Regions from separate parts of the Homo sapiens genome. Here region 2 is linked to region 1. A link means that fine-mapping ties the variant in region 1 to the expression of a gene that starts in the linked region. Tissue or cell type: esophagus muscle. Region 1 holds a variant in brackets; the other region holds the start of a gene. All regions are shown on one strand. Distances are from middle to middle.

Region 1 (2,679 bases):
ACCTAGTGTTGGCAGATCTCAATCTATAAAATTAGTTATTAAATATCTTTTCCTTTAGGAAGCAAAGAGGGCAGTAGAGTGTAACACTGGAAATCTGAGAACTAAGTGGTACTAAAATCACTAAATAAAGGTAATGGACTTGAACTTCGGAGTATTTGATTACAAGAAAATTAGATCCTCCAAAAATATGTATAATAAATATGCAATTAACAATACATTAGTCAGTGGACCTTTTTCTTTCTTCTTTTCAGTGGCAAAGAATAGATTAAAACAATGATAACTAAGCACCCTAAAATTCCTATCTGTTTAGTATTGAAAAATGTGTAAGTAGATAATTAAAACACTTAAAGAATGCTTCCAGCCTAAAAGACAAGTGTCTTTGCTTTCCCTGTGCATCTCACTTAACATTAACATAATTTGCCCACTCAAGCTGCTGTATGAGTTGATTTTATAGGTTACTATCCTTCCATTCATCATCCATTTTCCAAGAATGAATATGGATATTGTGGTGAGAAGTTCAGTCTGAAATGAAAGGCAATTCTACTATTACCTTATCCTGGAATTAAAAAATATATATTCAGAGACGGTTATTTCTCAATGATACATTTCTAAGCCAATGAAAAGCAATTTCTTCGACAGGCACGGTGGCTCACGCCTGTAATCCCAGCACTTTGGGAGGATGAGGTGGGCATATCACCTGAGGTCAGAAGTTCGAGACCAACGTGGCCAACATGGTGAAACCCTGTCTCTACTAAAAATACAAAAAAATTAGGTGGCACAGTGATGCACTCCTGTAATCCCACGTATTTGGGAGGTTGAAACAGGAGAATTGCTTAAATTCGGGAGGCGGAGTTTGCAGTTAGCCGAGAGCGAGCTGTTGCACTCCAGCCTGGATGACAAGAGTGAAACTCCATCTCAAAAACACAAACCACAACCAAACAAAAAAATATTTCTTTGTAAAATTTTGTCCTAAAGTATACTTGCATGCACACATACACCTACCAGTACTTTTTTTTTTTTTTTAAGAAAGGTGGGATTTCACATTAGACGTAAAAATAAAAGCATTTTTTTTTTTTTAAGGTGCAGTCTCGCTTTGTTGCCCAGGCTGGAGTGCACTGGTTTGATCTTGACTCACTGCAGCCTCCACCTGCCAGGCTCAAGCGATTCTCCTGCCTCAGCTTCCTGAGTAGCTGAGATTACAGGCATGCCCCAGTATGTCTGGCTAATTTTTGTATTGTTGGTAGAAATGGGGTTTCACAGTGTTGGCTAAGTTGTCCTTGAACTCCTGGCCACAAGTGATCTGCCCTTTCCTGCTTCCCAAAGTGCTGGAATTACAGGCGACAGCCACTGCCCCGGGCACTTTCTGGCGGTTTCTCTGAAAAAACAAACACGTTAAAAGAGTCTATTTCTACTTTCTTTTAGGTATTTCTCCATCTCTCTGTGCTGATGTGTCTGGAATTGACAGGTTCTTCGTCTCACTGACTTAAAGAA[G/AGAAG]CCGTGGACCCTCACAGTGAGTGTTACAGCTCATAAAGGCGCCGCACGTGGATTTGCTCGTTGTGACATTCGGATGCTGAGACAGTTTCCTCCTTCTGCTGGGTTCACGGTCTCACTGACTTCAGAAAGGAAGCTGTAAACCTCCGCAGTAAGTGTTACAGTTCATAAACACAGCACGCACCCAAAAAGTGAGCAACAACAACATTTATTGCAAAGAAGGAAAAAACAAACCTTCCCCAGTAGGCAATCAAACCCGAGTGGGTTACCACTACAGGCTTGGGCAGCCTGCTTTTATTCTCTTATCTGGCCCCACCCACATCCTGCTGATTGGTCCATTTTACAGAGAGCTGATTGGTCTGTTTTACAGAGAGCTGATTGGTCTGTTTTGACAGGCTGCTGATTGGTGCATTTACAATCCCCGAGCTAGATACAAAAGTTCTCCAGGCCCCCCACTAGATTAGCTAGATACAGAGTGTCCATTGGTGCATTCACAAACCCTGAGCTAGACACAGGGTGCTGATTGGTGTGTTTACAAACTTTGAGCTAGATACAGAGTGCCAATTGGTGTATTTACAATCCCTTAGCTAGACATAAATGTTCTCCAAATCCCCACCAGACTCAGGAGCCCAGCTGGCTTCACCCAGTGGATCCCCCACTGGGGCCGCAGGTGGAGCTGCCTGCCAGTCCTGCGCCTGCGCCTTCACTCCTCAGCCCTTGGGTGGTCGATGGGACTGGGCGTCGGGGAGCAGGGGGCAGCGCTCGTCGGGGAGGCTCAGGCATGGTGGGCGGCAGGTCCCGAGGCCTGCCCTGAGAGAAGGCAGCTAAGGACCGGCGAGAAATCAAGCACAGCGCCGGTGGGCCGGCACTGCTGGGGGACCCAGCACACCCTCCGCAGCCGCTGGCCCAGGTGCTAAGCCCCTCATTGCCCGGCCAGCAGGGCCGGCCGGCTGCTCCGAGTGCGGGGCCCGCCAAGCCCACGCCCACCCGGAACTCCAGCTGGCCTGCAAGCGCTGCGCGCAGCCCCGGTTCCCGCTCGCGCCTCTCCCTCCATACCTCCCTGCAAGCTGAGGGAGCCAGCTCCGGCCTTGGCCAGCCCAGAAGGGGGCTCCTACAGTGCAGCGGTGGGCTGAAGGGCTCCTCAAGTGCCACCAAAGTGGGAGTCCAGGCAGAGGAGGTGCCGAGAGCGAG
Region 2 (2,679 bases), 190 kb after region 1:
TGGTCTCTTCTATTTGGCTGATCAAATCTCTTAGCCTGGGCCAAAAAATGCCCTGCTCAAACCCAACAATGCTCAGCACCAGATTTTTTTGTACGTTGCTGAAATGGCTCTTCCTAGTTTTTGGTCTATCTAGACACCGTTCTTAGGGAGGCAGGAACTCAGCGCCCCTTCTCTTTAGGTCTGGCCCAAGCAAGACATGAGGGCCACCTCATGCACACTCAGTGTCTGGAATGGCAGTGCTATAGATGCACAGACGTCCTGTGCCCAACCCCCTGGGGCCAGGCCACCTTAGCAGGCCCCAGCTTCTGGGTGTGTGACCTTGTCCAGCCCCACACTCCTTTCCCCACACCTCTTTTTGAAACTTACCGCTCCCCTCCCCACCGTTCTTGGTGCAAACATTACAATGGTGGAGACTCACAAACAGCCCAACCCAGTTTCAAAACACATCATACAAACGGAAAAGTTGTTTCAGATTACAAACTTTTAAAGAAGAAAAAAACGGGAGGGGAGAAAAGAAAAGAGTGGGGAACAAGAGAATCGGCCAGGCAACGTCTGCCCTGGTAGGAGGCCCTTGTGCTGAGTTGGTCACAATCCAAGCCCAGACACTCATCCTGCCTGGCTCCACGGGTGACTCCCATTCAACAGTCTGGCTCCCCTACATGAGTACCAGCCCCTGACAACAGGCCTTTCCCAACTGACCCCCTGCCCTCCAGAGCCCCCTGAGACCCGGGCCCTCCCTCGGAACTTGAGGGCGCAGGGGACCAGGACGGCCGTCTCAACGGTCCCAGTTCTTTTTCCCCACTATGGAACACAAGACCCTCTGACCTCCTCCTTCGAGCGAAACTGCACACAGAGCAGGGAAGCCCTGCCGCGCTGGGTTCGGAGGAAAGAGGAGGCCGTGGACGGGGAAGAGGTCGGGTTTCGCTCCCTCAGCGCCGCCGCCTGGGCGACTCTTCCACCCCCGGCTCGGGTTCGAAGCGGCGCGGCCCAGAGAAGAGGAAGAAAGACGAAAAGGAACTTTGCCCGTGGTTTCAGTCAGTAGGCGGGTCAGGCTTCGCAGGGGGGTGGCCGGAGAAACTTGCGACCCTGGCGACCTGGGTCCGCGGGAGCAAGGGCCGGGGCGGCTCTGGGGACTGAGCTCCAGCGCGGGGGCTGCGGCAGCAACTTTCCCGGAGGAAGCCTGCCGCGAACTTTAGCGACGCGGTGCCCCGCCCGCTGCGCGATGCTCCCTGGGCTCCGGCCGGGTCCAGACGCCCGGCGCGTCCGCTCCCGGACCCCTGCTTTCCCGGGACGCCCTGTAGAACCTCGGCCTCGCGCCCCGCGCTCACTTACCATTTGCGCCACTTTCAGCAGGGCCGCGTGGGTGCGGGGGTAGCTGAGGTCCAGCAGCCCCTCCAAGGGGCTCGCGCTGGGCTGGGCCGCGCCGGCCCCGGGTCCGAGCGCGCTGCCGCTGCTGCACGTGGTGCGGACGAGCCCGGCTCCGTGCGACATTGCGCGGCCCCAGCTCGCTGGCCGCCTCCCCGGGCAGCTGCCCAGGGGCCAGATACAGAGGGCGGGCCGGGGGCGGGCGGGGGCGGGCGCTGGCGAGGGCGGGGCGCCCGGGTCCCTGCCCCGCTGCTGGAGACGCGGAGCCGCCTCTGGCGGGATCCCTCCGGTGACTGGCCGGCCGGCGCCTTCCAGAAAGGTAGCGGCAGTCCCGGCCCTCGTAGATGCGCGGAAGTTAGACTGGAGCGAGAGGAAACCGGATGCCTTGGGTCGTGGCCTCTCCGAGGTGGGCAAGGCCCGGACCACAGCTGGTACTGAGCCTCCTGGGATTTTGTGTGGGTGCGGCTGCGGATGTGTGCTGAGAGCACTTTACTGAAGTTTAACTTACATAAAGTGTGATGCCCAGACCTTACGTGTTCAGCTCCACTAATTTTTATATATGTGTACACCTGTGTAACCGTCGCCCAGATCAACAAATAGAACGTGCCCATCACCCCAGAAAGTTCCGTGGTGGGCCTTCCTGACCTACCTTCCTTCCCTGGCCCCATCCTTATCCAGCCTCAGGCAACCACTACAGTGTATTCTGCTTTCTGTCACTGTAGGTTCATTTTGCCTGTTCTTGGACTTCATAAACTTGAAGTAATACAGAATATTCTCCTTCAACATAACAAATTAGAAGATCCATCCTGTTGGGAATATAAGTAGTTCATATCAGTTCCTTCCTTTTTATTGCTGAGTAGTACTCCACTGTGCAAAGATACCGTATTTTTTAAACGTTTACCCAGTTGATGGACACCAAGCTTGCTTCCTTCCTACCTGCTTGCCTGCCTCCTTCCCTCCTTCCGGCCTTTCCCCCCTCCCTCATCTCTTTTCTGGCTATAGTCACTATTATGGTACACGTTTTTTTGGTGGATACAAACTCTCATTTCTCTGGGACAAATATCTGCAAGTGAACGCACTGGTTACAAGGGGAGCATATGTTTGCTTCTGTTAGAAGCTGTCAGCCTGGGGAACATGGCCAGACCTCATTTCTACAAAAAACAAAAAATAAAAATAAATTAGCTGGGCCGGGCGCGGTGGCTCACGCCTGTAATTCCAGCACTTTGGGAGGCCGAGGCGGGCGGATCACGAGGTCAGGAGATCGAGACCATTCTGGCTAACACGGTGAAACCCCGTCTCTACTAAAAATACAAA

What was found. PIP is the estimated chance that this variant, and not a neighbour inherited with it, causes the effect.
Region 2: CMTM7 starts here. The variant in region 1 is fine-mapped to the expression of CMTM7 in esophagus muscle (GTEx, PIP above 0.99).

The regions. Positions count from the first base shown.
Region 1 is chr3:32,578,611-32,581,289 of GRCh38, reverse strand. LOC124906226 (a long non-coding RNA gene) reads right to left here and starts at 2,582. Exons shown (of 2, transcript XR_007095860.1): 1 at 2,545-2,582; 2 at 1,681-2,298. The variant G/AGAAG (reference allele first, on the strand shown) is at 1,492.
Region 2 is chr3:32,390,719-32,393,397 of GRCh38, reverse strand. It overlaps CMTM7 (CKLF like MARVEL transmembrane domain containing 7), which reads right to left and starts at 1,545. Exons shown (of 5, transcript NM_138410.4): 1 at 1,333-1,545. The coding sequence starts at 1,491.